Regions from separate parts of the Homo sapiens genome. Here regions 1, 3, 4 and 5 are each reported to be linked to region 2. Evidence: microRNA targets listed by miRTarBase, many of them from high-throughput screens and not tested one by one. Region 2 holds a microRNA gene; each other region holds the end of a gene's coding sequence.
What was found. The annotated mature microRNA hsa-miR-1293 reads UGGGUGGUCUGGAGAUUUGUGC and lies in region 2 at 1,857-1,878, shown strand. An mRNA with a match to its seed (bases 2 to 7 or 8) in the 3' UTR can be bound and repressed. Matches are read on the target gene's strand: a 7mer-m8 pairs with bases 2 to 8, a 7mer-A1 pairs with bases 2 to 7 and ends in A, and an 8mer does both.

Region 1 (4,116 bases), not on the chromosome of region 2:
GCCACTCCTCCTGCTTGCCAGAACTTCCTTCACAAGTGGGACCCCCGCAGCCACCTGCAGCCCCTTGCTGGGACCCCAGAGGCCACCTACCAGATGACTGTGGAGCTCCTGTTCAGGTGTGTGGGTGGGGAAGGCGCTTCTGTCTGGCCCCCTGGGATGGGAAGCCAAGAGCTGGGGGGTGGAGGGGTTGAGGCGGCGGGCAGGCCCTGATGACTGTCCTCCCCCTCCGCCCGGTTATCTGGCTTTGGTCCTGTGCTCTAGGAGAGCAGCTCAGAGCCGGGATCGGGGCGGCTTCTTCTTCCTGCCACTGGCGTCATAGCCTTTGTCCTGCTCTCCTGCTCTTGGATTGGGCATATTTAAGGCACCATCCTTCAGGGTCCATTGGATCCTGTTGGATGTAAACAAGGGACCTGAGGAAAACGCACCCATCTCTTCTCCTGGCAGCTTTGAGATGGTTCCTCTGCTAGTCCAGAAAAGTGACCACCCAGAGGCAGCCCTGCTGTGGGGCCTCTGTGCCTTCCACCAGGGGCTGCCGAGTTGCTGCAGCCAAGCCCTGCGGTCCTGCCAGCCAGTGGGAAGACGTGGCCCCTGGGCTTTTAAGAATGCCGTGTAGATATTTCTAGTGGCTACATCCATCCTGAGGCTCATCTGAGTCCCCGTGTCTCTGTGTCCCTGTGACACTCACTTCGCATGTGTTGCTAAGCTCTGCTCCCTTGTTCTTGTGGGCAGGCCAGGGTCTCCCTCCTTTAGAGGCCCCTGTGTGCATCTTTCCTCAATTCCACAGGGATATTCTGGAGGAGCCCGGGGAGGATGAGCTCACAGAGAGGCTGAGCCAGCACCCGCACCTGTGGCTGTGCAGGTGACGTCCGGGCTGCCGTCCCAGCAGGGGCGGCAGGAGAGAGAGGCTGGCCTACACAGGTGCCCGTCATGGAAGAGGCGGCCATGCTGTGGCCAGCCAGGCAGGAAGAGACCTTTCCTCTGACGGACCACTAAGCTGGGGACAGGAACCAAGTCCTTTGCGTGTGGCCCAACAACCATCTACAGAACAGCTGCTGGTGCTTCAGGGAGGCGCCGTGCCCTCCGCTTTCTTTTATAGCTGCTTCAGTGAGAATTCCCTCGTCGACTCCACAGGGACCTTTCAGACAAAAATGCAAGAAGCAGCGGCCTCCCCTGTCCCCTGCAGCTTCCGTGGTGCCTTTGCTGCCGGCAGCCCTTGGGGACCACAGGCCTGACCAGGGCCTGCACAGGTTAACCGTCAGACTTCCGGGGCATTCAGGTGGGGATGCTGGTGGTTTGACATGGAGAGAACCTTGACTGTGTTTTATTATTTCATGGCTTGTATGAGTGTGACTGGGTGTGTTTCTTTAGGGTTCTGATTGCCAGTTATTTTCATCAATAAGTCTTGCAAAGAATGGGATTGTCATTCTTCACTTCAGCACAGTTCTAGTCCTGCTTCTCTGGAGTAGGGTTGTTGAGTAAGGTTGCTTGGGTTGTGCATTGCACAAGGGCACATGGCTGTGAGGTGTATCCTGGCGGGGGGCTGTCTACCTGCAGTGAGGGGCACCTTTTCTGTTTTGCTCAAAGGCATGTATAAGCCAATGGGTGACCTTATTTCCTGTGTCTTCAGGTGTGTGGCAGGGGGCCTGGGGTGGGGAGGTGGGGCGAGCGAGCAGTGTGTGGAAAGCCTTGTTGTCACCTGAAGCACGCCAGGTCCAGATTGACCAATGGTTTTCTCACTTCAGGGGCCAACCCACGCCCCCTTTCTGCTGAGGTTTGGGTGCCATCTAGTGGTGGGATGGGACTTGGTTGACTACATTTAAGGTAAGGTGGACCCAGCAACTCCCAGAAACAACTCCGGGGACACCACTCCCCATCACACTCCACACCGAGCCTGGTGCCCGGTCTGTGCCCGAGCTCAGCGGGACCAGGAAGGGATGGGCCCTGCCAGGGTTGCCCCTGCACTGTGCATTCTCGCCTGGGAGGCACAAGTTCTTTCATCTGCTTTTCCTTCAGAGGTGCTGAGCCCACGCCATAGCCCCTGTGGGATGGTGGGGGAGGGGGCGACCCGAACAACAGTGCAGTCGGTATCGAGATTGGGGAGAGGAGCGAGTCCAAGGAGAAGGTCATGAGTTTCTTTTTACTCGTGTTGAATAATAACAATAACAATAACAATAACAATATGGAAACCACCGCAAACTTGGAGAAAAGTTGTAAGCACAGTAAAGAGAAGCTTCCTTCTGAGTCACTTGAGTGGTTGCCGTTCTGGCCCTGCACCCTCTGTGCTTTGGGACGGCGTCCAACCCGCATTCATGTCAGGAGTGAGTCGCACGTGGCTTTGTGGTCATGGCGACTTAATCCGCCTGGACGGTGGCTCCGTCTCCCTGGGCTTAGACGACCTTGGCACTTCTGGAGATAAGCCCATGGCTCCCAGGTTGTGTTCATGTGACGTTTCCTTGTGGTAGGTTCTGGGTCTGCGTTTCGTCTAGGAGTGTCACAGGATGGACACTGCCTCCTGGCAGGGGCTGCCCAATGCAGTTAGCCTCCTGCTGGTGTTCTCTCTTGTTGCTTGGTGAAGGTGGCCCTGGTCAGCTTCTCCACTGCCCAGTGAACGACCCCTTTGTAATGAATGAGTGGGGAGGTAGTGTGAAGCGATGCCAATATCCCATCCCTGTCAAACTGCCTTTACTTTTTCCTTCCTTCCTTGCTCCCACCTGTGTGGATCCTGGTCCCTTCTTGTATTCAGGGCTGTGGTCTGTTATGACATTTACTCTCAGGCTCAGGTCCTGCTTGTTTGGCCCGTGGGAGCCCCTTCTTCTGCCTTTTGTGTTTTTTTTGTTATGTACCTACAGTTCTTTAGCTGTTTCTTTACTTTCTGGTGCAAAAAGATGTTCAAGCCTTATTTTATACTTGCCTGCCCCTTTCTCTTTCATTTATTGGAGTGAGCTGCAGCTCTAAGAAGACCTGTTCTTTTGAATGGAGAGTAGCATCAGGAACCAGGATGTGGGTGCGAGGCGTGCTCCTGGCTGTTGCAGATTGCTGCACCCGGGAGCTCTTAGTGGACAGAGCTAGAGGATATGTGCACGTACTTCCATCTCTCTCTCTGTCTCATCTATTCACAGCTGGGAATGATACTAATACCTCCGATTTTAGCCCAGCACCACAGGGTACGTTCCAGTTTTTCTCTCTTTCCATAGCTGTAAGGCCCTTTCTGGGAATGGTTCTCATTCTCCTTAATCTATTATTGGGTCAGTTTTCCTGCATGTCCCCAGCCTCCCATCACTGCCACCCACTCCCCACAGAGATGCCCTGCTCATCCGACTGGGGCTTTGACTCCCACACTGTGTACCCCTCTTGTGTGGACGCCCTGCTGCCAAAACCTTCAGCAAACAGCTTTCCAAATGGAAGTTGTCACTGTCAGGGCCTTTACAATCAGCAACAGCAAAATCTACATGCTGCTGAGGGTCCTGCCTCATTAAGATGCAATAAATATGTAAGTACATAAAAACAGCAATAGAAGAAACGTAATGCTTTATTCTCAAATATGATGTCTACATAGAAAAGCCAAAATTATTAAGAATAGTAAGAATTCACCCAGCACTTTGGGAGGCCGAGGCGGGTGGATCATGAGGTCAGGAGATCGAGACCATCCTGGCTAACAAGGTGAAACCCCGTCTCTACTAAAAATACAAAAAATTAGCCGGGCGCAGTGGCGGGCGCCTGTAGTCCCAGCTACTGGGGAGGCTGAGGCAGGAGAATGGCGTGAACCCGGGAAGCGGAGCTTGCAGTGAGCCGAGATTGCGCCACTGCAGTCCGCAGTCCAGCCTGGGCGACAGAGCGAGACTCCGTCTCAAAAAAAAAAAAAAAAAAAAAAAAGAATTCAGCACAGTTGTTTGCTATGAGATTTAAAAAGTTTTTACTTTATTACTTATTCATTTATTTATTTTAGGGTCTTGCTCTGTTACCCAGGCTGGAGTGCAGTGGTGTGATCATGGCTCACTGCAGCCTCCAACTTGTGGGCTCAAGCAGTCCTCCTACCTTGGCCTCCTGAGTAGCTGTAACTACAGGCACATGCCACCAGGTCTGGCTAATTGTTTTATTTCTTGTAGAGATGGAGTA
Region 2 (4,116 bases):
TCTAGTAGCTGGAATTTCAGGTGCCTACCACCATGCCTGGCTAATTTTTGTATGTTTAGTAGAGACAGGGTTTTGCCAGGTTGGCGGGGCTGGTTTCCAACTCCTGACCTCAGGTGATCCACCCACCTCCATCTCCCGAAGTGCTGGGATCACAGGCATGAGACACCGCACCCAGCCGTGAACAGTATGTTTATATCTGCCTTTTTATTTATTCAGTTGTCATTTTCCTGCTTATTAGTAGTTATTTATATTCTAGGGAAATTAATTTTTTGTCTGTAATATAAGTTGCAAATATATTTTCAGCTTGTCAATTGAATCACAGCAGTTCTAATCCCACTTTCTTCCTAGTTATGGTCAACGAAGTGCCAGAAATTTTTGGTAGCCCTTTTACCCTACCCCATTAGAGAGTTCTGCTCAATTGCAGAGCAGTACTACATGGCGACTGAGATGCTTGTTAATATCTGATTATTAAAATTAGACAGTGATAGGATTGGGGGCTGGGCACGGTGGCTTACACCTGTAATCCCAGCACTTTGGGAGGCCAAGGCTGGTGGATCACTTGAGGTCAGGAGTTCGAGACCAGCGTGGCAAACTTGGTGAAACCCGTCTCTAGTAAAAAAACAAAAATTAGCCGGGCATAGCGGTGCACACCTGTAATCCCAGCTACTCAGGAGAATCACTTGAACCCGGGAGACAGAGGTTGCAGTGAGCCGAGATTACACCACTATACTCCAGCCTAGGAGACTGAGCAGGACTCCTTCTCAAAAAAAAAAAAAAAAAAAAAAAGTGATAGGATTGGAAGACCCTTTATGTAATACTCTTTCTTGGCTGGGCATGGTGGCTCATGCCTGTAATTTCAACACTTTGAAAGGCTGAGACAGGAGGATCACTTGAGCTCAGGAGTTTGAGACCAGCTTGGGCAACATAGCGTGACCCTATACTAAAAAAAATTTTTTTAAATTAGTCGGGTGTGATGGTAGACGTCTTTAGACCCAGCTTCTTGCAAGGCTGAGGTAGGAGAATTGCTTGAGTCCTGGAGGTCAAGGCAAGCTACAGGGTCTTACTCTGTAGCTCAGGCTAGAGTACAGTGGCATGATCGTAGCTCGCTGCAGCCTCAACCTCCCTGGCTCAAGGAATCCTCCTATCTCAGCCTCCCCGGTAGCTGGGACTGCAGGCGTGCACCACACCTGGCTAATTTTTGTATTTTTCGTAGAGACAGGGTTTTACTGTGTTGCGCAGTCTGGTCTCGAACTCCTGGGTTCAAGCGATCCGCCCAGCTCGGCCTCCCAAAGTGCTGGGATTACAGGTGTGAGCCACTGCACCAGGCCTGAGGCTGCTTTTTTTCTTCTTCTTTTACCTCCTACTCCAAATGCCTCATGAATTCTGAAATTCTACCTTTAGGCAGAGGACAGTGCCCTTTTCTAGGGGTGGGGCTGAGTTCTGCTAAGGCAGGCCCAAGGAGAGGCACATAATGGTGATTCTCCACGTGGTGGTGCTGACTTCAATGCATGACTCAGAGGTCTGGAGGAAGCCAGGTTAAGGTTGTTCTAGGGCCAGGCATGGTGGCTCATGCCTGTAATCTCAGCAGTTTGAGAGACCAAAGCAGGCGTATCTCTTGAGGCCAGGAGTTCGAGACAAGCCTGGCCAACATGGTGAAACCCTGTCTCTACTAAAAATGCAAAAATTAGCCAGGTGTGGTGGGGCATGCCTGTAATCCCAGCTACTTGGGAGGCCGAGGGATGAGAATCACTTGAACCCAGGAAGCGGAGGTTGCAGCTAGCTGAGATCGTGCCACTGCACTCCAGCCTGGGCAACAGAGCAAGACTCTGTCTCAAAAAAAAAAAAAAAGGTTGTTCTGGGTGGTCTGGAGATTTGTGCAGCTTGTACCTGCACAAATCTCCGGACCACTTAGTCTTTAAATGGAGAAAACCTGTTCCTCCTTGAAAAGAACTTTAATTTTTTTCTCAGAGGTCTTCCAATCCAAGTAATAAAAATGACAAAATGATAAAAGTAATAACAAATAATTATTTATGAAATCTAAGATGTCATCAACTATAGCTGTGCCACTATTTTTGCATCTCTAAGAAAAAATGCTGATTAAACTAATCACTGCTTATTACAAACTTTTCTCACATATCACTCTTGTGCATATGTAAAATAATTTTTCCTTAAATGCCAAACATAGTATGATCTTTTAAAAGACATTTTTAAGTGGCATTTAAAACATATAATAATAGCTGTGTGCTGTGGCTCAAGCCTTTAATCCCAGCACTTTGGAAGGCTGAGGCAGGTGGATCACATGAGGTCAAGAGTTCAACACCAGCCTGGCCAACATGGTGAAACCCTGTCTTTAGTAAAAAATACAAAAATTAGCCGGGCATGGTGGCACATGCCTGTAATCTTAGCTACTTGAGAGGCTGGGGTAGGAGAATGCTTGAACCCGGGAGGCGGAGATTGCAGTGAGCCGAGATTGTGCCATTGCACTCCAGCCTGGGCAACAAGAGCGAAACTCTGTCTCAAACAAAACAAAACCATGTAGTACCATCAAATACTTTTAACTGAGTTAAAATGACAATATCAATAACTTACACTAAATTCAACATGTACAGGCAATGTGACTATCTCTCAACCATTTGGCTGAGAACAATTGTAAGATATCAGGCATAAATATGGGAGGGGAAATGTATATGTTGGAATTAATGCATTGCTGTATGGACTTAACTAATTTCAAAATGTTTTTACACATGATTACATTTAATCTTCCTGGCAATCCTGAAAGTAGATTGTAACTTCTTTCTAGATAAGGAAACTGAGGCTTAGAGAGATTAAGTCACTTGCCAGAGATCACAGTTAATAAGCAGCAAAACTGGGGCTTAAAGCCTAGACTTTCTGCTCTATCCAATTGTTTCAGCATTTGACCTTATCCACGGGGATCTTGTTGTTATATCAGAGCAGATGACTGGAATAGCTGCAGGAAGTGAGGTCTGCTCTGATTTACAGCTTCTTCTGATAGAGTTGATTAAAAGCAACTGCTGGCAGAAATAGGTATGCAGACTGTTTTTTTGGGTTTGTTTGTTTTGAATCTCGCTCCGTCACCTAGGCTAGAGTGCAGTGGCGTGATCTCAGCTCACTGCAACCTCCGCCTCCTGGGTTGAGGCGATTCTCGTCCCTCAGCCCCCCGAGTAGCTGGGATTATAGGTGTGCGCCACTATGCCTGGCTGATTTTTGTATTTTTAGTAGAGGTGGGGTTTCACCATGCTGGCCAGGCTGGTCTTGAACTCCTGACCTCAGGCGATCCACCCACCTCGGCCTCTGAAGTGCTGGGATTACAGGCATGAGCCACTTCACCCAGCCCAGAACTGGTTTTCTTAAAGATTAAAAGTGGCTGGGGGGCTGGGCCTGGTGGCTCATGCCTGTAATCCCAGCATTTGGGGAGGCTGAGGCCAGCAGATCACTTAAACTCAGGAGTTTGAGACTGGCCTGGTCAACATGGTGAAACCCTGTCTCTACGAAAAATACAAAATTAGCCAGGTGTGGTGGTGTGCATCTGTGGTCCCAGCTACTCAGGAGGATGAGGTGGTGGGATCACTTGAGCCCTGGAGGCGGAGGTTGCAGTGTGACAAGATCACGCTACTGAACTTCAGCCTGGGTAACAGAGGGAAATCCCATCTCAAAAAAAAAAAAAAGAAAAAAGAAAGTAGCCGGGCTGGTGGCTCATGCCTGTAATCTCAATACTTTAGGAGGCTGAAGCATGAGGATCACTTTAGCTCAGGAGTTTGAGACCAGCCTAGGCAACATGGCAAGACCCCATCTCTACAAAAATAAAAAAATTAAGCCAGGTGTGGTGGTGTGCACTTACATAGTCCCAGCCACTCAGGAGGCTGAGACAGGAGGTTTGCTTGAGCCCGGGAGGTCAAGGCTGCAGTGAACCATGATGAACCATGGTTGTACCACTGGATTCCAGCCTGAGCAACAGAGTGAGACCCTATCTCAAAAAAAAAAAAAAAAAAAAAAAAGCTGGGCACTCACTTTGGGAGGCCGAGGCAGGTGGATCACTTGAGGTCAGGAGTTCGAGACCAGCCTGGCCAACATGGTAAAACCCCATCTCTACTAAAA
Region 3 (4,116 bases), not on the chromosome of region 2:
CCACTCTGGTGGGGGAGACAGATGTGTAGGTCACACTGACAAGCTCAGTGACAGGGGTGTAAAGGTGTCATCTGGGAACCAGGGGACTACTGAGTGGCAGGGAAGACTTGAGGATGTGGAGGATGAATAATGACTATAATATGAGCTGCTGTTTACTGACCACCCACTCTAGCCAGCCACGGTTCCTCACACATAATCTCATTTAATCTGAGGAAACTGAGGCTCACAGATACATATATGTCCAAGGCTACACAGTTAGTGAGTAGTTCAACCAGGACACCACTCCAGGTCCATCTAACTTTAGAAACTTGAGACTACCAGACCCCTCTATTCATGTGCTGGTCAGACAGGTAGTGATATCCAGTCACAACTGTGGCTACCATTCATTGAGCAGTTACTACAGACCGGGTCTAATGCTAAAGGCCCTGCTGATTATCACCACCCCACACTGCCCAAGCATCCCTCCAGCAGCTAAGAGGGAACAGGTACAAATCGAGTCTCTGCCATCAATTTCCTTCTGAGCCTCAGTTTCTTATCTGGAAAATGGGGATCATGATACCTGTTTTTCAGGGCTTGCGTGAGGTTTAGAAATAGTGCATGTGAAGTACTTGGCACAGAGCGGGCCCCTGATAAGTGGTACTTAGTATCGTTATTCCAGGCAAAGACTGTAAATGCTGGAGAATCTGAAGGGCCAGGGGTGTTTGGCTGTTGGCAGAATCACCCAGCCAGGGGAGACCTGATGGAGGAGGGTCAGCAGTGGACAGATTGTAAAGCGTCTTAAATCCCAAGGGCTGAATGGTTTGAACTTGGTACAGAGGGCAGTGGGAAGTGCCAATGGCTTTTAAATAGGGAAGTCCCTGCCTGGTCCCAGGTTCTGGGGATATGGGCATTAGCTAGACGTCCATGTTTGCAGGAACAACCCTGCAAAGACATAATTACTTCTGGAGAGATGTCTGCAAAGGAAAAGTCCGCCAGGCTCTGGGCCCATATGCACCCTGACCCAGCCTGGGTTGGAGAAGACCTCGCTAAGAAAACAGCTTGTAAACTGAGCCCCAAGGAGAAGTGGGAAGCAGCAGCAGGAGCTGGGTGCAAGGCGGGCCTAAGAGGAGGCCTGTGTGTGACGGGAGTGAGGGGGTGGTGTGCAGGCTGGGGACGTAACAGTGGAGATCTGTGTTCGGAAAGAGCTTTCAGAGGCAGCATGGGGGACAGACCCGAGGGACAGAGGCTGGAAGAGACCAGTGTGGAGGCTGAAGCTGGATCTGAGGCAGCAGAAGTTTATGGGATGGGAGAAGGGAGGCTTCTTGGAGGAAGTGTCGGTCGGGTAAAGCTGGAAGATTGAGGAGACAGGTTCGGTCCTTGAGCTCCAAGGCACTGCGACCCAGGCTACAGGCCAAGCCCTACGTGCTCTGTACATTTAGCGCAAGAACTCTCTTTCACGTCGCCTCGGGAGCTACTGCACGTGGCGGCTGCCGCCCTCTGCCCAGCCCAGCCTAGCCAAGCCTGGCGGTCCCTGCCCGCTGCAGATGCTCATTTGCATTCATTTGCATACTGTTCCCCGCCCCTCTGGGCCCAGCTGCCTCTGGCCCTCCAGCCCGCGCCGCGCCCCCTGCCGGCAGCAGACGGCCCCGCAGCGCAGTGCCGCCCCCTTGGCCCGGCGCCCCCTTTCGACCACCGAGCGCGGGCCGCCCTGGGCCCGGGTGCCAGCCCGGTACTTACCCCCGACGCGCGTGCCCCGGGGCACGCGCTCCTGAGCCCGCCGCTCCAGGCCCTCCACTGTCGGGCCCCGGTGTCCTCCAACATCTCTCCTGACCCCTGCGCCCGCTCGGAGCTTCCACCTGCGGCGCCTTTGCTCCTTTCCCACCCAGCCCTCCAAGGGAGCGCGGCAGGGCCCGCCCGATAGCCCTCTCTTCTGGGAGGCCTTCCCGGACACGCCTTCCCGAAGCCCTCGGCTCCCCACGCCTCCGTGATTCCCCACTCCACCTTGCCCAGGCGGGGGCAGCAAACGTCAGAGAGCCCGGGGGCGCCTCTGAATCTTGCGGGTGGGGGCTCGGGCAGGCTCCTCTCACTCCCCGCCTCCCCTCCCGCCCCCAGGCCATTTACAAGATGGTTTCGTCCGTGATGAAGATGCCGGAGGACGAGTCGACCCCGGAAAAGAGGACTGAGAAAATCTTCCGCCAAATGGACACAAACAACGACGGTGAGGGGCAGGGGCGGGACGGGGTGGACGGGGCGGGCGCCTTTCCCTCCCTCCCTCCCTGCCTCCCTTTCCCGCTCCGCCTCCCCTCGCTAGGCTGCCGCCTCCTCCCCCATCACCGCTCCCCTCGCCCTGCAGGCAAGCTGTCCTTGGAGGAGTTCATCCGCGGGGCCAAAAGCGACCCGTCCATCGTGCGTCTGCTGCAGTGCGACCCCAGCAGCGCCTCCCAGTTCTGAGAGGAGCCAGGTTCCCCTTCCTCCCTCCCTTCACCGGCCCCCTCCCGGCTCTTAGCTTCCACTCCCTTGTGTGTATTCTGGCTGGGGGCCAGATTGGGGAAGCCCTTCTCCCCGGGTCTGCCCTGTGGGGGGCTTCCGGAAAAGGGAACCCTGCGGTACCCCCAGGCCAAAGCAAGTAAGCGGTTAGCACCCCCCAATCCCAGAGGCAACAATAGAGACACAGGCTGGGTTGGTCTGCCCCTCAGTCAGGCCCCCTTACCCACCCACCAGCCCCAAGGCCCGACCCCTCCCCCAAAGGGGCAGTCCCCTTCTTGCAGGTCTCAGCTTGCGGGGTGGGGGGAGTCATGCCCAGGGGAGGAGACTTTTTATCTGGAGGGGAGAGAAGGATTCTAGGGGTGTGGAGTTGGAGAAAGAGGCTTCCTTGAGCCACCCTTCCCACCCCAGCCCTTGCTGGTCCCTAGGCCAAGCCACCAAGTGAAACCTTCCAGGATACTAGCCCGCCAGCTGTGGGCCCCAGAAAGCCAGCCTGCCTTTTAGCACTTGGATACACACAGACCCACGGAGCTCTCTGTGTTTGGCCTCTCACACACACACAGGCCCATAGACAGATGGGCAGATGCACCCAGAGCCCCATGCACAGTGTCCTGCGTGGGAAAGAGACACGGTCCCCCTGGCTGAGCCCCTGTCCTCCCCTCTGTCCCCCCAACCGCCCCCCCTGCATGCAGCCAAATGGAGCATCTCTGTTCTTTTTAATAATTTCAGAATAAAGTCTCATTTCAGTGCAGTGGGCTGGGTGGTGGGGGAGAGGGTTGAAAGCCCCACTTGGGTCCCCGAGGGTCCATTGAGCCCTCTCAGGCCAGCTCCAGGAATCCTGGCCTGGTCACAGAGCAGAGTTGCTTGCAGGGTCCTAGTGGCCATCGGGCCTGGGCAGGACATCATCTCTCAGAGGGTCAGAGGCTCAGAGCTGGTGCAGCTCAGCAGGTCACGGCCCTCCACCAGCTCTGGGTTCTCCCGCATCTGCAGAGACACAGGAGGCTGCCAGACCCACTGGTTCTCAGCCTGGGTCTCCTCCTCCAGGACATCCGGGAAATGGAAGGAGGTGAGGGCTGGAAGGCTCTCTGGGGGCAAAGGGGCATCACTACCCACTCCACTGCAAGAGCCAGGCCTGACCTTTGCAATGCCCTCAGTGCGAGCCCAGACACCCCTGCCCCTCCCTCAAGACTCATCCTGGGCCCTAGGAGAGCCAGGTGTCAGCTGTGTGACTCTGCTGGGAGATCTCACCTCTCCCAGCCTCCAGGCCTCTCCCTTTGCTCCTGGGGAGAAAACTTCTGCCCCATTTCTCAAGGTGGGGGCCCATACATAGGGGTGGGGCAGAGCAGCTTGGGCACCCTGGCAGGGGCTCCCAGGAAATTCGGGGAGTCAGGGCTGTGGAGGGAACTTACCATGTGGTGGCTGCTTTTCCCCCACCAGGGCCTCAGCTCCAGCAGCTGGTGGGTGAGCTGAGCACAGCGTACAGCAAACACGTTCTCCGCCACGCAGAGCACTAGGGCGATGCCCCAGAGGCACAGGCTGGAGCTCTGCGGGGCATGGGGCAGAGATGGCTGGCTGGAGTTGGGGGTGGAGGGTGGATTCCAAGAGCCCTTCCCACCCGTGCGAGGGCCTGGTGCCCCTACTCCAGGCCTAGGT
Region 4 (4,116 bases), not on the chromosome of region 2:
TAAGGCATGTGGGCATCTGTTGTTGGAGGAACACGTGGGAGTGCGGTGTCAGTGCGTGGCTGCTGTTCCTCTTTGCGGGAGTCTCTCCAGCCACTTACGGAAGGTTGCCTTCTGCTAGGGACAACCCTCCCAGGGCTGACTGAGAAGTGTTTTGGCCTAGGAGTTTCCTGGGACCTGTCAAGAAAACAAAAATAATACTATGTACTAAACTTTAGTCTATTTAATTCCAACATCCCTATTACGAGAAAATAGACTTTGAATACTTCATCTCTCCTTAAGTCACATAGCTAACACTTCAGCCCAGTTCTGTCTGTCTGTGTTCAAACTTTTGTGCTGTTTTCACACAGGGAAGCAAGGGGGCAAGGCTTGCTTTCCTGTTGCACCACACTCTCTTACATTCTTTGCCACCCAACAATATATTCCACATGCTGGATCTCTGCCCCTTTCTTCAAAGTAAGGGCCTCTGTGAAGTGGCCAAGGTAGTCATGTCTGCATGGCTTACGCTGATTATCTGCTGTAGAGTTTGAAAGAAATTAGAAATGAGGCCTTCCATAGACAGAATCTCTCGTCTTCTCTTGCAGCCAACAGGAAGGCCGGGTGTGCAGTCACATCTCTGCTAGCTTCGGAGCTGACCAAGGATGATGCCATGGCTGCTGTTCCTGCCAAGGTGTCCAAGAACAGTGAGACATTCCCCACAATCCTTGAGGAAGCCAAGGAGTTGGTTGGCCGTGCAAGCTAATGTGGGTCCTGTGACCGCGGCAGCTCCTCAGCGGAGCCGCAGACTGTCCTGCCCTGCAGCATGTGCCTAAAGGCTCAAGGGGATATTCCTCTGGGGTGGCCACTCCCACCACCCTGACCCTGTCTTTCTCTCTGGCCTGCTGCTCTCTCAACATCACATACAGCTTCAGCTGCCTGGAGGCCAGAAGGAAAGGGCAGTGCAGGGGAGGCCTGAGCCCGACTTAGCCAGCCCTGGCTGTTGTATTACCAAAGCAGGGTCCATGTTTGCTGCCTTAACCCTGTCTCCTCTCTGTTACTCAGAGGGCCTCATCTCAGACAAGGCCCAGCCTGCTTTTTCTCAGCCCTGACTTTCTAATGGGCTTTCCCCCCTAGGTCAGTCTTGCTGGATTTGTGCTTTTCTTTTGTGGTTTCTCTGGCCCTGAGAATAGCATGGGGCTTGTAAACCTTTGGGCTAGATCCCTCCTTTCATTGCTGTTGTCTCTGCTCTTCCCTCTCCTGGCTGTGGTTATTTATTATTAGTGGTGTGGCACTGGGAGCTGCTCCTAAGGAAGCAGGGAGCAAATCCCACCTTTACCCCACCTTCCTGGGAAAGGCCTCCAAAGCAAAGGATCTGGACCAGTTTCCCTGCTGTGCTGTGGCCCAGGCCAGAGCCTGTGGGCAGGCAGGCAGGGCATAGCGACAGTGTGGGACCTGCCCCCAGCTTCTGCCACGCTTTATGCCCTTGCCTCTCTGGACGCTCTGCACCAACCCCAGGCTACTGAGCCACCTTCCCTCCTCATGCCTTCCCTGAGCTTTGGTGCATCTCATCTGGACTATGGGTTGTACTGTGACCATCCCAACACCTCACCCTCTGTCTACAAGGAAATGGGAGGTGGAGCCTCCTGGCTGAGAAATTGTTTTGCAAATGGATCTATTTTTGTATGAAAAAAAAAATTTTTTTAAAGAAAACTGTTCCTTCCCCCTTTCCCCTCCATAATGTAAGAAGCTTTGGTGGCAGGTTACAGAGTTCTGGGATTTCTTCTCACAGGCCCAATCCTGAATGTGCCCCTGGACCTTCTGGACCCTTGAGTCCAAGGCAGATCCTCTCTCCCAGGGAATCCGACACAGGAGGAACCCCTTCTCTGGTTGAGCTGGGCCAGGCCTAAGAGTAGCAGGAACTCTAAGACCACAGAGTTTTTTATAAATGTATAAATGTATCAAGCCAAATGTGCAGATGCTAACTGGACATTCTGGGGAACTGGGCACCAGGAGTGCCTTCATACACTGTACCCCAGCTCTCTTCTAAAAGAGAAGTGGGTGGGCACACTGAACTGTTTGGTGGCCCCAACCACAGGAAGCTGCAATTCTCTGGCTTAGGGTGATACTTTTGCCCTCCTTGTGCCCCTCTCAGCTTTCCATCCCCAGCTAGGAAGAAAGAATGGCACTCTTGGGCTTGGCCCAGAATTAGAGTTATTAGAGCAAGAGAGAGCTTAGGAAGCATGAGGGCAACTATAGTGAGGCCTTATTGCCAGGAGGGAGGGTTTTGGTTGCTGGCGCTTGTGTATAAAGGGGCAAGAGCAGCTCCTTTGGACTATTCCTGGGAGGACTCTGATGCAGGGCGTCTGTTGCTCCCCTGGGTCACCTCCTCCCTGCTCGCTGACATCTGGGGCTTTGACCCTTTCTTTTTTAATCTACTTTTGCTAAGATGCATTTAATAAAAAAAAAGAGAGAGAGAGAGAGGTGTGAGGGACAAAATGCAAACCTATTTCCCTTGCCTCATAGGCTTCTGGGATGTCATCACCTCCAGTTTGTTGGTTTTGTTTCCAACTGTTAATAAAGCATTGAAACAGTACTGCCTTACAGCTTCCTGTGTGAATTTCTGAGCTGTTTTCTTTTCACTCTAGTCCAGGCTCCTCTAGTCTTTCCTGCCTCAAATCCCTGGTTGACCTGACAAATCACTGTGAAAAAGCTAAAGGTGCCAGACACTTTACTTGGGCACAGGGCTAGAGATGATTAATACATGGTGGCTGCTGCCCCACCAGAGCTCACCTCAGGGCCGTTTGGCCACAGTAAAGGAGTGGGCGCCTGGTTCAGCTCCCTGACTCTTCCACATTGCTGCTACTTGGTTTGGAGCCCTTTTTTGGAACTCACTTGGAACCTTTCATGTTCCCAGATGTCACGCAAGGTTTCCTGGCAGTACCTGTGTCTCTTGCTGAGGGAAGCATCTGGCTCCCATTTTCTCATCCCCTCTGCTCTGTTGGTGGCCACAGACCACATTCCAGAGTAGAGGGGTTTACCCTGGGGTGGAAACCTGAGCCTGCCCAGCAGAGGTTGGGAGCCTGAGGTCATGCTCCAGATGACTTGCCACTTGGAGCCATACTTGTCTGAGCACGTTATGACCTGCACAAAAAAGCCAGACCAGCAATGAGCAGGCCCAGGATAGACAGGGAGAGGCCTGGAGAGGACCACAAACCCATTCGGGCGGGCTCTGGAACTGGAAATAAAAGCCTTTTAAATAGCCCTGGAGCCTGGGCAGCTGCCTCCTCAGTATGGCCTGAGGTGTGGGGATGGGTTGCCTGCCGCCTCCCTCCCGTCCCCCCGGAGGCCACGCCTTTCTGGTTCAGAGCTTTATAGGCACACATACCAATTAGGGGACAAACCACAGCTGCTCACGCGCTCTGCCAGTCTGCTGCTGTGCCTGGAATAGAACCCAGGCGCCCGGCACCCCGCCCCTCCGCAGCCTGGCTCTGAGTAACAAAACCCTGCTTCCATCTCAGCAACCGTGCACACCACCCTTCCTCCCACGCTAGAAAGTCGCCCCCAGATTCTTAAGTTGGAAGGTTTGGTTCCCATGACAACAGACTTGAGCTGGCAGAATGGGTGACCTGGCTCTGGGAGCCTCCGCAGCGCGGAGGAAGCCGCATACCCTTGCTGACCAGCCAGATAACCGCAGTGGCTCTGTCTTTGTGTTCTTGGGTCCTTCCGGGTAGTTCCCCTTTTAAGTCCCCCTTCACCCCCAGCTCCGTGTTTTTCTGCAGCTTCTCTGGCTGCAGCAACCTCGGAATCCCACAGTGCTTCGAGGAGGCAGGCGGAGGGGGCGGGGAGATGGGAGAGCAGGCGAGTGAGTGGAAAAGCACCGACAGGAAGGAGGGAGGGGAGCTGAGTCTGCGATGGATCTCATTTCCTGCACGTCCTTTCAGTCCCCTTGACCCCCGCAAGAAGAGGATGAGCCCTCCAATTTCTTAGGCTTCGCTACGGAGATGTCAGCGGGAAGGCGAATTCCAGATGGGGAAACTGAGGCTCGAGCTGCAGACTTGGCTTTGGAAGAATCACCTCCCGCATTCCCTCCCACTCCCGCGGCTTTCCCAAAACCCCTAGGCAGCGGGGGTGGGGGTGCGG
Region 5 (4,116 bases), not on the chromosome of region 2:
CTTACAATGTAGTAGAGAATTCTGAACTATTTCTTCAAATGTAGACCATAGATTCAGCTAACTTCATAATCACATCATTGGTAACAATGGGTTTAGATCAGAGTATGGTTTACTCATCACTGTTAGTAAGGTAACTTAATTGTCATGCTCACGCTAAGGAGTACGACACTAATAATACCACTCCGTATGTCAGCTAATAAGATAACGAAATAACAAACATGTTAAGACTAGCTAACACATGGGAGCAATAGCCAATGTAAATTTGTATAAAGTGAGAAGTATTCAATCTTCTACCTAACAATGAAGCCTAGACCTGCCATCAATATCCCAGCTGGCAGGCTGAGCAGTTTCATCAACATCACCAATGAGTCACCAGAACTGAACAAAGTGACCAACAATGAGGACTGGGAACAAAGCCAATTTGACCTAAAATGAAGTCATCATTTTTGCATAACTCTGCTGGGTTAGACATGTGCGAAGAACAGATGCCAAACTGCCATTATATATTAAGCTTACACAGGAGCAAACAAATGATAAAAGAAAAAAAAAATCCTCAAACAAACAAAAAAACCCAAAAAAACCAAAACAAAATGAAACTAACCCTGCCAGCGTTTCAATAATTCCCTGAGATGGGCTAAAGGAATGTGGGAGGTTGTGACATATATACCAATTACAAATGAGTGGTTCTTTCAGAGACTTGCAAGCTGATGTTAATTTATGACATAGAAACAGCTTGTGGTTTCAAACACACTGCAGTCACTTTTTTCACACGTTTACCTTAAGTGAGCTTTGACCCTATGGAAGAAAGTTGCTTTAGGGCATTACTGGATTTTCATTCATAACTCTATGTACAGATACACATATGAAAGCAGCAGCAAATTTACAGATGAGGAGCAATGATATTCATTATGTTAAAATCATACTTGGCCTCATGTGAAACACTCAATTTACAAGTAACATTTATGAATCCTGCCTTATTTTACTTTTTGTAGGCAAGATAGCTTAAGGTATATAAAAATTAACTCATTTGGCAATTATAACTCCATGAGTTGATGGCAGAATTACTAACAAACCAGTTCCTTTCTAGCAAAGTCTTAAGAAAAACATTCTAACTACTCTGAAATTCAGAAGAAACAGATATTGAGTATTGATATTTAGTTATTGAGTATAACTAAATATCTAAAGTAGTTAGTATCTAAGAATCTAAGAATAGATTCACTTGTAAGTCAGTTCTAACTTTAAAAAAGTATGTTTAAAACATACTTCAGACTGCAATGTAACAGGGATTATTACTAATGCCTATAATACAGCATTCATATTTAGGAGGAATGGGCATCTGTTATGCATGAGCAAGACTGGGAATAGGAGAAGACAAGATTCCTTCCCTCAAAAGAGCTTACTGGGTACAGACATAAACAACTGTAGAATGTGATAGCACCATCATGAAGACTGAAATAAATAATCACAAAAGTTCATACTCATAGCAGTAAAGCCCCAAAGGACTGAGAAGATGATTCAAGTATAGAAAGAACTTCCTGGATGTTCTCAGAAGCAGTGACCACATAAGACAAGAGGGAGCAGTTGAACTTTGCCCTGAACTTCCTGGCATGTTTGACTAGGAAAAAAGGCTGCACCATTAACCTAAATTGTTCCAGGAGGAAAAGGTGATAAATATTGTCAATCTTTAATCAAGGTTGAAATGTCAACTAGGCAATTAAAAAGAAGTACAAGTCTAGATTTCTGGACCAGGTATGTAATCCAGAACATTGGTATAAAATAAAAACTCTAAGGATGAGATACCGAGAAAAGAGCCAAAAGCATTCTGAGGACAGGATCTGAGAGAGCACATGTTCAGCAGGCACATCTTAAATTAGGGTTATGCGACTGTACTCACAGTTATTTCAGAGGATAGCATCTTCAAGGAAGGAGACACTGTCTAGGAAAGGTTGCTCAATGGTGTAAATGTTGCAGAGAAAAGGGTAAGGGATTCAGACGGAGAAAAAAACCATTCAGTTTGGTAACTGGGAGGCCATTGCTGACTTTCAAAAGAACAGTTTCAGTAGAGTGCTGTGTAAAACCAGACTGCAAGGTGCTGAGTAGTGAGTGATGAGGATGTAGGGGCACTGGATGTGGATTTCTCCAAGAAGTCTGTCAGTCAGTGAAGAAGGCTGGAAAAACTAGCAGGTTAAAAGGGAGGGGTTTTTTTTTTGCATTGGAAGATACACGAGCATGTTTGTAGACCTCAAAAAGGAACCAGTATACAACTCGTTTATAATTTTGTAATGACTACAAGACTAAAAAATAATTTTTAATATTTTAAAAAATGTTCTGAAATAAAAATACATAAAATTTAAATTATATGCATTTTACCATTTAAACTTAATACAAACTTAAAAGAACTAGCATTTCATGATAAATTTTATTTCTAAAGGGGTCATACAGTTCTGTTATTGGACTACTTCAGAATTTATTTTGCTTTTAGACTATAATGAGAAACTAAATTTTATTAACAATTGCTATTTTAGTTCCTGAAAGATTACTCTGATATAAAGGATTACACTGAAGTAATTATGTATGCCTTCTTCCTCAGCCCTCCTCCCCTAAAGACAAAGTATCTTCAGGGTAGTTAATAATTTTGAGAATATTTTTCAAGTTGAAAAAGAGAAAAATTAGAAATAGTATTCCATTATTAATAAGTTCTTAAAGATCTAAATTGTTCACAATAATTTTTCATGATAAAACATGCTTATTTATTATATACACATGCTTACATATGTATTTCCTGTCTAAAATACATGCAACCACCATGAAAAAACAAATATTAAACCATCCTCACAGTCCTAAGAATGCCCTTTTAAATAAGGCACTCATGTTTGGAAATAGGATGTAACTACTAAATTAAATAAGATGTTTAAAGAAGTCTTTTATTAAGCACAAACAACTTTTAATACATTATCAATACAAATAGGAAAAGGTCTTTTAATGACTATGATATATCAAAGATCTGAAAGGCTTTCTCTGTATTGACACAATAAAAATAATCAATTCTGAAGAATTACAAAGTAAAATTTTGAGGACACCACTGTCTACTAACAAGAGTTTAACTACTGTCTAAATTTACTAAATCACCTGTGGAGGAAGGGCAACTTTTTTTTTTCTTTTTAATAGAGAGAATTCCTACTCTTATTAGCACCATTCAAAGCTTATTATCAGTTGTTTGTCTACAAACTGACAGGTCAGGTAAAGCTTTAAAGCAAGTTTTCAGTGCAATGTTTATAGTTCCTTCTTTTAAGATACTTGGAATCTACAGCCTCGAAGCATGTTAAGTAATTATGCCTTGGTAGTAGCAAGGTGTTAACATGTAAAGAGAAATGTGTCATGAAAAGAAATGAGACTTATTTTGGCTGTGAAATGCATCTTAAGGTGTGGTGGCTAATGCTGTAGTATGTTGACAACATGCGGGATTATGAACTGCAAATCTGTAGGTAGCTGGTAGCTATTAGCTCTCTGTGGTCACCATTTCAGGATGTCTCAGCTGCTGCCTTTTGAGATTAACTAGTTTCATCCTGTCTCTGATGTTTTCTGCAGTAGAAGCCATGTCACTTGGACTCCCAAAATATTGTTCGGTTCTAAAAATCAAAACACACAGAAAAACCTCAGATTAATACAAATCTATTAACTGCAGTGAATACAAATAGAAGCAAAAATTTACCATAAAAAATCTACATGAGATAGCCTATGTGTAAATATCAGTTCATCGGTGATCATACTGTTTGAGCAGGAAATTCAGCAGGAAAAACATTTTTTAAAATGGCATAAAATACATTAAGACATGATGAGAAAAATATATTGATGGTATAAAGGTTATATCATGTGTAGTTATGATAATAGCAACAAATTGAACAATGAAACACTGGAAATATGTGGGTCCAGAAGGATGCACAAACATAAAATTTATACAGGTACTTGAGTGCTACCGGCTGGGGACACCACTTGTCTATAGAGCTGGCAAGCAAAATAAATATTCTTTTTAATGTTATGACATTTTTTGGTACATTAACAGATAAAATTATTAATTTTATTCTACTCTCAAAGATACTGTATTCAGAATCACAG

Region 1: the mRNA of TPCN2 is a reported target of hsa-miR-1293. Seed matches in the 3' UTR shown: 7mer-A1 at 3,283-3,289.
Region 3: the mRNA of TMEM54 is a reported target of hsa-miR-1293. Seed matches in the 3' UTR shown: 8mer at 3,221-3,228.
Region 4: the mRNA of DIAPH1 is a reported target of hsa-miR-1293. Seed matches in the 3' UTR shown: 7mer-m8 at 847-853.
Region 5: the mRNA of SESTD1 is a reported target of hsa-miR-1293. The part of its 3' UTR that is shown has no 7-base or 8-base seed match.

Annotation. Positions count from the first base shown.
Region 1 is chr11:69,087,091-69,091,206 of GRCh38, forward strand. TPCN2 (two pore segment channel 2) reads left to right here. Exons shown (of 25, transcript NM_139075.4): 24 at 22-116; 25 at 785-3,507. The coding sequence ends at 863. Among named protein-coding and RNA genes, the nearest start is that of MIR3164, 6.0 kb to the left of the region's middle. RefSeq lists a silencer at 1,663-1,802.
Region 2 is chr12:50,231,944-50,236,059 of GRCh38, reverse strand. It overlaps MIR1293 (microRNA 1293), which reads left to right and starts at 1,848; the gene lies at 1,848-1,918. The region is part of intron 2 of LIMA1 (LIM domain and actin binding 1); the gene reads left to right. RefSeq lists enhancers at 203-702, 703-1,204, 3,642-3,691 and a silencer at 1,406-1,545.
Region 3 is chr1:32,891,433-32,895,548 of GRCh38, forward strand. TMEM54 (transmembrane protein 54) reads right to left here. Exons shown (of 6, transcript NM_033504.4): 5 at 3,873-4,007; 6 at 3,163-3,447. The coding sequence ends at 3,373. HPCA (hippocalcin) reads left to right here. Exons shown (of 4, transcript NM_002143.3): 3 at 2,092-2,197; 4 at 2,333-3,214. The coding sequence ends at 2,430. Among named protein-coding and RNA genes, the nearest start is that of HPCA, 7.0 kb to the left of the region's middle. RefSeq lists a silencer at 1,561-1,740 and an enhancer at 3,984-4,116.
Region 4 is chr5:141,513,474-141,517,589 of GRCh38, reverse strand. It overlaps DIAPH1 (diaphanous related formin 1), which reads left to right. Exons shown (of 28, transcript NM_005219.5): 28 at 582-2,569. The coding sequence ends at 739. It overlaps LOC124901091 (a long non-coding RNA gene), which reads right to left and starts at 582. Exons shown (of 2, transcript XR_007058971.1): 1 at 1-582. RefSeq lists enhancers at 301-926, 927-1,552, 2,179-2,804, 2,776-3,025, 2,805-3,430 and 2 more.
Region 5 is chr2:179,106,400-179,110,515 of GRCh38, forward strand. SESTD1 (SEC14 and spectrin domain containing 1) reads right to left here. Exons shown (of 18, transcript NM_178123.5): 18 at 1-3,629. The coding sequence ends at 3,500. Among named protein-coding and RNA genes, the nearest start is that of CCDC141, 58 kb to the left of the region's middle. RefSeq lists silencers at 129-329, 1,409-1,609.